Linked DNA regions of Homo sapiens. The protein of the gene in region 1 binds, or shares a complex with, the protein of each later gene. Each region holds a gene or a part of one and is shown in the gene's direction. Other genes may lie near its edges.

Region 1 (7,040 bases):
GTGAGACCCCCGTCTCTACAAAAAATAAATTAAAAAAAAAATTAGCCTAGCTCAGTGTGGTGGTGCATGTCCCAGCTACTCTGGAGGCTGAGGCAGAAGGACGACTTGAGCCCTGGAGTTCAAGGCTGCAGTGAGTCATGATCACACCACTGCATTCCAGCCTGGGCGATAGAGTGAGACCTTGTCGCTAAAAAAATAACAATAATTAAAGAAAACAACTCCACACTCGGCACAGAAGTACCTGTGTCATGGTGTTTACTGTGGGCAGACTTAAATAAAATGGGGAAAACTTGATGTGTGTGTTATAGTTTTGTACGGTTAACCACGTGTGAATATTTACAAGAATCAAATTGAGAAGCCATTCTTGTTGAGCATAAAATTCATCCTTAAATTTCACCTCACCAGACAAATAGTTATGCCTGCATTTTATCACTGGAATCGAGAAAGAAATGATGAATTTTTTAATGGCTTTTCCATAACTTTCTGGTGTTTTCTGGTCTCTTTTTCATGCCTGTCTAAGATCAGGCCTTTCAAAATATGTACTGCTTCATTCTGGTGGCAGTATTAACTGTTAGGTGAACTTTGGGAGGGAGTGGTTGACTGGAGCAGTCAAAAAGGATCGCATCTCTTTTTAGGCATCACTGAGTGTTATTCACGCAATCAACATGGCATCTTTTTGTCGGTAGCTTTGGTTTTTGACTCATGCCAATGCACAGCACGTTCTTTGCTGATGAATAGATTTCTCTGCCTCTTATCAGGAGTTGTCTGCTGTGGGGTAGGGAGGATGTTGAGTTACACACCTCAAAATGATTGCTAGTGCATACACATGGAATCTAACAAAAGTGACGTGTTTTATTCTGGGAAAGGTCGAGATAAATTGGTGCTAGAGTTGTCTTGTTTGATCATTAATTGGCTTGCTCCTCCAGCCAACTTAGGTCACCACATTTCCTTCTGGGTAAAATGAGATGGCTGTGCTTCATAATCTCTAGGAGATTATATGTCACAAAGTAGAGGCAGCAAATTATTAGCTTCCAAGTAGTTCTGCCCAGGCAATGTGTTAAGCAGCAGGAGGAGGAAGTAAGCCAAATGGAAGTGTGTGTGTGTTTGGGCAACGCATCTAACTTGAAAGGTGTATAGATAATAGACTCTTCAGTCAGAACCAAGCATAAGAGAATAGGATTTGTGACTAAGTAGGCCATCAACAGAGAACATTTATTAAGGACTTTTTTGTAGAGGAGTGAGGGTGAACTCAAAAAATGTTTCAGGGAGTTTGGTGGAAAGCTATGATGCAATTGGAAGGCGAGGATGCCTGAGGGAGGAGACGTGGAGCCACCTAGGTGTGTAGGCAGAGGGGAGGGAGGTCGGAGGCGGTCCCAGGCCGTGTTGCCAGAGAGCCCAGGGGTGCCAGGGCTAGTTAGATAACTTGGAGGAGAAATCTCTGTTTCTCACCATGACTCTTGGTACTGTGCATGTTGTGAAGCTGTGTGCTCTGGGTATTTCCACATTCTGGATTTTTCAAATCCTTTTGTTAATTTTTGACCATGGTGAGTTCAGGCGTTGTTATTATGTTGCTTATTATGAATACAGTGAGGATGACTAGGTGTAAATGAATGTAAGGTAACAGCTAGATCTGCCTGAGGTGGAGAGAGACTGGGTGTGTATTTTGGAAAAAAAATGGAGAAGTGAAACAGGCTGTTCAGGCTTCACATTCTGGCTGCATGGAAGCCAGCTCATTGCATTCTCCAGGAGTTCTCTGGGAGTCTGTGGACACAGACTCCACTTTTGTCTTAGGCCTGACTCGTACAAACATATTCTGTTGTTTGACAGGGGATGGAGAAACACTATAGAACAACTGGACACATTCATTTCATTGCCACATTCTTTATTCAAGTGTGACAGAGAGCAAAACAGTATAAAGGAGTTGAACTGACTACTGTATTTTAATTTCAAGTTCCTGTGAATTGGATTAGATTTTTGGGTACAGAAGCTAAGGTAATTTCCAAAAGGTTAGTGCCCATAAGACTGTCTATGTTCTCAGAGTTAGAAAAACCTGGGAAAAAAAAAAGCCTTACAGACCTCTGTTTCTACAACTTGCTGTGCAGAACTCTAACAGATAGGAGTGTTTATGCAGCTAGGTGACTGCTCTGGTCTGTGCAGTTTCACACCTGTGTATTTGATCAGATGTATATACCTGGAAATACATACATAATGTGGTTGGAAGTCAGATTAGAACTGCCTGAGGACTACCCATTGGTGAATGCAGAACATTCTTTGGAATGAGTGCTAGTATTCTTAAATAACATTTAAAAATAGTTGTTTGGGAGCAAACAGTTGCCACCCTCATAATCCACTTTAATTTGTGCCCAGTACTTGATTTTTATCACAGCAGTCCTGGAAAACCTAGCTTCATGAAGATATGATGTCATCGAAAGGAATGCAGTGCAATCTAATTAACTCCCCTCCAGTGGGGTGCCCTACAAATGTCAAGTATCTATGTTTCCCTCAGAAATTTAAAATAGCCCACCCTGCCCTTGTGAATTTGCCGTGATGCTTTGGGGCACCTCAGCATGCAGTTTGGGAACCTCAGGATTAGAAGTTGGTATTATTGGCTCTAGTTTATGGACTACAAGGTATAGTGGTGAGGAGAAAAGGCATCAAAGTCCGTTTTTAATTCTCCATCCCCCCTTCCAGTATCTGTAAGCTTTTCCCTTGGGCCCCTCATTTCCCCCAGAGCTTTGCAGTTTTGGGATGCTACCCTTTTAGTTGCTAAGCTGAGGGGAGGGACAGACAGGAAAGAGACTGCAGTTCAGGTTTCCTGTGCAAATCGTCCCTCCAGCTCCACTTTCCTTTGTGCTTTCTCTCCATTTTCTGCTGGGTGCAATTCCTTAGGAAGTGGGTCTGCTAGGGTAGCACAGGGATGTGGGTCATGGAATCTACAGCCTTTCAGGGACCCCTCGAGCCTCCGGACCCGGCCTGTCTGGAGAAGTCTCGAGAAGTGCCCGTGTGCTGTTCAGTTCTTTTCCAGTTCTCTGGTGGGAATCAGCTTTCTCATTGTTGGCTGCTGCTTTCCGCATTAGGTTTCATTGTCTCTTCACTCTGTCACTCCCGGACCATTTGCTTTCCACTTTCTAAATTTTGTTGCTGTCTTGCATCTACAGTTGTTCTTTCTTGGTGTCCTTTTTGGATTTGTACCTTACGTAGACCTTTTCTGTCACTGGGTGGGAGTGAAGATAACACATACTTGACCTGCCCTATTTAGTTAGACCTGGGGAAGTTTGTGGACTTCTGTTTATTGATCTATAAAACATGGATGATAGTGTCCAACTTGCAGGTAATTTTAAGGTGCTATATGCCAGGTACCTAGTAGATATTCAGTTAATAGTGGCTGCTAATATAATTACAGCCATAGCATTTATTATTTGAGCAAGCAAGGCAATAGCAATAGGTAGTGCGAAAAGTGGACATATTTCATGTGTGGCTGAATGAAGTGCGTAAGAGAAAAGAAAGAGATTTTCGAAATGGAGAAAATAATTAGCTCAGTTTTAGATATGTTGAATTTGAACTACCATCAGGGTACCAGATGAACATACTATACAAGGGGTTGCAAATTCTTGTCTGGCTCAGACATGCGGATGTAGACTTTAGGAATCACTGGTTTTTATAGCCCAGGGAGATACCATCTGGAAACAGGTAAGGGTTTCAGTCTCGTGAAATAGCTTCATGAAGAGCTTGTCAGGAAAGGGAGCTGTCTATGTTGAAGAAAGCTAAGGGGCCAAGGAGGAGAGAAAGCAGAACCTATTATCAGAGTGGTTTTATGGACAATTAGGAAACATTTTCAAGAGGATTACTGCCAGGCTGTTTGGACCTGATAGAAGCAGTAATGGGTGGTAAGTCCTGGCTCAGACTTGAAGGTCTCCCCTGTGCCTCTAGCTAGATGTGTGATCCTGTGTAAGACACTTTCCCAGTTAGACCTGTTTCCTTATTTGTTTTTAAAAAACACTTGAGGCCAGGCACGGTGGCTCACACCTGTAATCCTAGCACTTTGGGAGGCCAAGGAGGGAGGCTTGCTTGAGCCCAGGAGTTCAAGACCAGCCTGGGCAAGATGGTGAAACCTTGTCATTACAAAAAAAAAAAAAAAATTAAAAAAAAAATTAGCCAGTCTTGGTGGTATGCACCTGTAGTCCCAGCTACTCTGGAGGCTGAAATGGGAGGATCACTTGAGCCCGGGAGTTTGAGGCTGCAGTGAGCTATGATCATGCCACTGCCCTCCAGCCTGGGTGGTAGAGAAAGACTCTGTCTTTTAAAAAAAGAAAAAAGACTTGGGTACCCTTCCAAGATTTTAGTTCATGCACATTCAGACAGATGGCTACACCTGAGAGAATTCACTATATACTAGCTGGGCCTCAGGTGGAGATGCTGGTCAAACTTGCAGGTGTTTTCTAGAAACATACACAATGAAGTCCTGAGAGAAGAACTTTTCCCTGTATTCACCTTAGGGTTGTATGTGCCGTAGGGCATTCAGATGAGGACTGAGAAAAAGCCATTGGATTGGCCATTAGGAGGTCTTTGGTGACTTTTGCTGACAATCAGGGGGAAAGGATGGGGTGGGAGCCCTGGTGTCCTATAAACTGAGCAGAGAGTTAATCAGGTTTGCAGGCACATTGAGAAATGGGTAGTGATGGGCAGAGTGAGGTTGGGCTTGGAAAGCTTTTTGTGAGAAAAGTCAGTTTCAACACTTCGATAGGGGCAGACCTGGGGGGATCATTGACAAAGTGACAGTTACATTGGATAAACTGAACTTGATGAAGAGCTGCCTGCAGTGTTGAGCTGGTGACAACTTCCCTGCAGAGTGGTATTTGGGAGCCTCTAGTCTAGTCGAGTCCTATATACCGGACATAGCTGCCCCTCTTTAAATATATCTTCTTAGGAAATCCTCACTCCTTGTAATTAACTTCTCTAACAGTCGAGAAGTTTCCTTTTGCTGTGGCTCCATGCCTTGTGGAGCCCCTCACTCAGTGAGTTTGTATAGTTCCCCAACCCCTAGCTTTGTCTGCTGTAAATTAAAGACATTTGGTTTCTTATCGAACTGGAAGGGAGGCCTCAGAACCAATGTTTCTTTAGGTGATAGCAGAACGTTGCAGATCATTTTTGATTTGTGTTTTGCTGCTTTAATATATTTTTCTGACATATATGTTCAAATTCATTCCTTTCATAATTTGTTTTTCTTCCTGAAATATCTACCTTTAATTCCCCATGTTCTCATCTTGTGACTTTTATCTATGTCTTTGCATTTTAATTCTGTCTTCCAAAGTGCACTCTATTGTCAAAAAGTATTGTAAGTACCTTTTACAGGTAAGTGTCATCGCAGGTAGATTTATGCTTGGTTCTTAAAACTTAAGCAAAACAAAAAAAAATTATTCTCACTTCTCAGGACTAGCAGTTTCCCATGAGTAAGGCTGTTCACTGAACTATCACAGTTTATGGTCAAAGTGTGATATTCATAAAAGTCTCATGGGTGAGGGAGAAAAAGAGGAAATTCTGCTAAAGACAGAAACTCTTGAAGGGTGTTATGAGCTACAGAAATGGATCACACATAACATACAAATGATGCAGGCATGTAGCAATCAGTTCTTGGTGTCCAAACTCCTTAAGATCTGATGAAACATTTTTTGTTCTTTCCAGAAAAAAAGCGCAAGCACACAAGCTTCCACCAATGCTCTCATCCTTATTTCACATGTGATTCTAGGGAGTGTATTTTCTCCCTGAAGCTCATTTCATGGACTCCCAATTAACCACACTCTAGGCCTGCACTGTCCAACACAGTTCCCACTAGCCTCATGTAGCAATTTAAACTAGTTAAAATTAAATGAAAAATTCAGTTCTTCAGTTAGACCAGCTACTTTCCAGTGCTCAGTAGCCACATGTGATTAGTGGCTACCATATTGGACAGTGCAGATTATAGAACATTGTCGTCATTGCAGAAGGGTCTGTTGGATTTTGCTGCACTATATAGTTTCATGATGGTTTAAGATTTAGTTCCTTAACTAAGTCTTCTTTTTCTTTTTTTTCTTTTTTTTTTTTTTTTTTTTTTTGGCCCTTCTCACTTCCTCCTTTCCCACTCCCCCCACCACTGTTAGTGATTAGTTAACATACCTACAGAGGTGCCTTGTTTTAAGAAAAATGTTAACATATTTCTTAAAAGTTAAGTTAGCTGATTCAGCTTCAAAAAAAGTTACTTAATTGAAATAAGTTCTTTCAATAGGGGAGGTGCTCTGACATAGCGATAGTATGGTTTGATAATACAGTTTTTCTCCTCTAGCTGCCTCCTGTTCTTGAGGTAATGCTCAGTGATTAACTAGATAGGACTAGATAATTTATTTCACCTTGGCAGGTCTTGCCTCCAAGTTGGCCTATTCCTATGGTATTTCCTTTTCTTTCTTTTGCTTCTTCCTGCACACTAAGTATGGTATTTTCTGACAGTATTTTTCTTAATTCTTTATTTATTTTTCTTGGTAATTTCTTGCTGTAGAGCTGGTACCCATTAGACATAATGACTTTCCTTGACTTGCTTCTTGCTCATAAATTTCTGTAAGACAATCAGGAAGTTTTTAGAAACAAACAGTGGAACCAATTAGGCTGTTAAGTGAGACACGCCTAAATTAAGCTATGAGGAAATAAATACAGCTCCAGCAAAAATAGAAATAATTTTCAGATTATCCATGCTTTTGTTTCCCTGGTTTTCTTTGAACCTCATTTCCTCAAGCTATGAAGTGAAATGAAGTGGTAAGTACACCTCTAAGTAGGACATTCAGGGTGAATCCAAAGGAACTTGTGAATTTGACCAAAAAAAAAAAAAAAATCTGTTCCTAAATTTAAACCAGGAGTGATAAATTCATTTTAAGTTTTTGGAGGGGTTACAGAGTATGTGTTTTAAAATCTCAAGTTTTGAGAAGGCAGTTTACAAATGATGCCTGCTCTCCCTTTGGCAGCTTATTAAGGAATGTAGTCGTTTTTCAGCATTTGCCAGCTCCCTGTCGCAG
Region 2 (3,649 bases), on another chromosome or scaffold:
TACCCCAAAAGAAGCAAAATTGTGTTTAAAAATAAACTCTAATTAATATGCAATGTTGAGGTGTGGAAGGGGAAATGTACTGACATCTGTAATTTGCTCTGAAATGTACCCAAGAGATAAGGCATGATAGATAGAATTAGTCTTTATAAATAAATATGTGGGCCGGGCATAGTGGCTCATACCTATAATCCCAGCACTTTGGGAGGCCAAGGCAGGCAGATCATGTGAGGCCAGGAGTTGGAGACCAGCCTGGACAACATGGCAAAACCCCATCTCTACTAAAAATACAAAAATTAGCCAGACATAGTGGTGTGCTCCTATAATCCCGGCTACATGAAAGGCTGAAGCAGGAGAATCGCTTGAACCCAGTGGTGGAGGTTGCGGGGAGCTGAGATCACACCACTGCACTCCAGCCTGGGTGACAGAGCTAGATCCTGTCTCAAAATAAGTATCTGATAAAGTTCATATAATACAGTGTCAATGACTGAATCCAGGTGGTGGCCTTAAAGGTGTTCACCGTACAATTCTGTCAACTTTGCTGTGTACTTGGAATTTTACAGAATGAAATCTTAGGGAAGAGTGGTATTAAAAGTATAGAAACTGAATTACTTGGAATACTACTCAATAGGTATTCAGTAAATACATTTAGTGAATAAATAAGCACCTCATTCCTTCTTCAGGCTAGAAACTAAGGCATCACCATGTGTGCAGGTGACCCTCATGGTGCTGGTACCCAGAAAAGTCACAGTCATCAAGGCTTCTTTGCCATCCTTACTGTGACCTGGTAGCGTTAATGCTCCATGGTCGCCCAAGACAAGATAAGACAGCCTCCCATGGCTCCCCACAGAGTGGAGAGGGGATGCAGGCACAGGCCAGAGCCACGCGTCATACTCTGCAGAGCTGATTCCCCAACCCAGCGTCCATGGCCAGAGTGGGGGACACCCCACGCCCTCTACCTGATCAAATTTCCTCTGCTTCTTTTCCAGGTTGGACACGAGTTGCCGCTGGTTGTCCAAATCAACAACCAGGTCGTCCAGCTCCTGCTGAAGCCTGTTCTTGGTCTTTTCCAGTTTATCATAAGCGGCCGCCTTCTCCTCGTACTGCTGGGTGAGGTTCTCGATCTCCTTCTGGAACCTCTTCTTCCCCTCTTCCAGAGCTTCCACGGTGCTGGCAAAGTCCTGCAGCTTCTTCTTCGAGTCGGAGAGCTACAAGGACAGCGTCCAGGGTAGGGTGAGAGGGGGACCATGAGTGGCCCCTGTCCCTGGCCCCACAGACTCTGAGAAGCGAAGACCATGTCTCCTCGTTGGAGAAACCCAATAGCAGGGGAAGCTGGGGGGTCAAGCACCATCGCACCAACACTCCACCGCGATCTGCCTGCGGGGGATCTCAGCGCAGAGAAGTTGAGAGGACCCATGAAGGAAGCAAGGACACGGGGCAGGCACCTGGATGTTGAGAGTGGAGATGTGGCGCTCCAGGTTCTGCTTGGCCTCCATCTCCTCGTCCAGCTGGTCTTGCAGGCTGTTCCGCTCCTCCTCCAGCTGGCGCAGCTTCGTAGACACGTTGAGCTTCTGCCGGGTTTCTTCTTGAAGCAGCTCCTGCAAAAGGGATGCAAAGAGGTCCCAGGGACCTGCCCCGAGGAAGGCCACCCCCCAGGTCCCCTGGATGATGTGGCAGGACACTCACCTGGGTGTCCTGGAGCTGGGAACTGAGGGACGCCACGTCCTTGGCCAGCTTAATGGCCTTCCCCTCGGCCTCGTTAAGCATCCCTGTGACGCTCTCAACTTCATTCTAAGGGTGCCAAGAGACTGGTTAGTCAAAGCCTCTAGAAGGGGATCCTCGTTGAAAGGAGCCCTTTTTACTCAAAACACATGGGCTAGTACTTGAGGTGTTCACTGATTGAGAAAATACCCGTGAGGTATGGGACTCTGATAAAAAAAAAAAAAAACACACACACACACAAAAAAAACAGAATCTGTGGCTTGAAGGGAACTCCGTCACCTATGAGTTGGGACCCTGGCCCTAGACTCTGTGGTTCTAAGAACTTATTTGAGCCCCAATGGTATTGACTGGGACCTGATCCCACTAAATGGATCCTAGATCCCTGCCAAGGTTGGTAGAGACAAAGCAGCAGGTCTGAGAGTCCAGACGAGGTGCTCTGGCTGGTCCACTCTCTAAGGCTGGAGAAGGGAGACCAGGATGGTACTTGAACGTCCCAGGGATGCTGTCCCATCCCTTCCTTCCTCACTCCTACTCTTTGACCCTGATGGCCAAAGCCAGAGACGCAGGCCCTAAAGGTAAAAACGTCCTCTCTGTATTCTCTGGCTTTTACTCCCTAGTGTCTCTGCATAAGTCCCTTTGAGGCTGTTAGCCTACCCCTCCATCTCTTCCATTGACAAGGAGGATATGAATGATCTTGACACTGCTTATATGAGGGCGGCAAAAGCCCTGCTCTCAACTGCATGTGAGAAAAAAACATCTCACTTAATTCTTCCCTCGCCCCTTGGTCCCTGGCTGTGGACATGTTAAACATTTGTGAAAACTTTGGCCACGTCCCCATGAGTGGCAAGGCAGGGTAAATGGCTATGCCAAGTGAAAGAAGACCAAAGACAAAAAGACCATGTCATTCAGCAGCTTAAAACCCCTCAACAGCTTCACATTGCCCAGAGTAAGGATCAACATACATGTAATAGGTTCTCAAAAGCCCTACATCATCTGGGTACAAGCTCCCCCTCCAACCCCACTCTGTACTATCTCCCCCTACCCCCAACCCCAGCTGGGCACTCCAGCTCTACTGGCTGTATGTCTCTCTCCTAATTTTTCTACTTACCACAGGGCCTTTGCACACGCTGTTCCCTCTGCCTGGTAGACTTATCCATGCTCCTTAGGGAAGCCTTTCGTGGCTCCTCCTCCCCCAGGTTAGGCCCCCTGGTTATTTACACTTGGGCATCATGTGCCTTCCCTTTGCTGCATCATTTGACATTCATTTGTGTGATTATTCATGTCTTTCCCTTCCCTTCCCTTCCCCTTACTCGGCTGGAGTCCTACTGGGGCAGCGACAGTGTCTCTTCTTCCTTGCTGTTGGATCTCAGGATTAAGCACAGTGCCTGGCATACAGCAGGTGCTCAATAAATACTTATCAAATTGGAAAAGGAAGGGTTTTTTTTCTTTTTTTTTTTTTTTCCTGAGACAGAGTTTTGCCCTTTTAGCCCAGGCTGGAGTACAATGGTGCGGTCTCCGCACACTGCAACCTCTGCCTCCTGGGTTCAAGCTATTCTCCTGCCTCAGCCTCCCGAGTAGATGGGACTACAGGTGCCCACGACCACGCCTGGCTAATTTTTGTATTTTTAGTAGAGACTTTTCACCATGTTGGCCAGACTGGTCTCAAACCCCTGACCTCAGGTGATCCACCCACCTCTGTCTCCCAAAGTGCTGGGATTACAGGCATGAGCCACCGTGCCTGGCCAGAAGGTTTTTTTAATATTTAATTGAACAGGGAGATCATCGCCTCTCCTCCAGGAACGCAACTAGAGGAAAGGACTTGCCTTGCAGCAAGAGAGACCTCAGCGAGCCGGGAAGAGGCTCCTCCCCACAGAACTGGGCACCACCCAGCACTGCCCACCACACCACCGCGCCACCTCCTCACCTGCAG

The links. Proteins that work in one complex are often made in the same cells at the same time.
Region 2: the proteins of RAB9A (region 1) and NDE1 are in contact, whole or in part, in a crystal structure (PDB 7E1T), measured with the Homo sapiens proteins. Residues at the interface, in NP_001182257.1 of Homo sapiens: Ile40, Val42, Phe44, Asn46, Gln59, Trp61, Arg68, Phe69, Ser71, Leu72, Pro75, Phe76; in NP_001137451.1 of Homo sapiens: Asp99, Gln102, Thr103, Ala105, Ile106, Gln109, Leu110, Tyr113.

Annotation. Positions count from the first base shown.
Region 1 is NC_000023.11:13,692,122-13,699,161, forward strand, and holds part of RAB9A (ras-related protein Rab-9A), read left to right. Parts: intron 1-7,040. UniProt on the Homo sapiens protein: The small GTPases Rab are key regulators of intracellular membrane trafficking, from the formation of transport vesicles to their fusion with membranes.
Region 2 is NC_000016.10:15,723,205-15,726,853, forward strand, and holds the end of NDE1 (nuclear distribution protein nudE homolog 1), read left to right. Parts: intron 1-956; coding exon of another isoform or gene 957-986; coding exon 987-1,047; coding exon of another isoform or gene 1,048-1,205; 3' UTR 1,206-1,442; coding exon of another isoform or gene 1,443-1,595; 3' UTR 1,596-1,683; coding exon of another isoform or gene 1,684-1,788; 3' UTR 1,789-3,149; downstream 3,150-3,649. Other genes in the region: MYH11 (myosin-11), read right to left, coding at 957-1,205, 1,443-1,595, 1,684-1,788, 3,644-3,649. UniProt on the Homo sapiens protein: Required for centrosome duplication and formation and function of the mitotic spindle. Essential for the development of the cerebral cortex.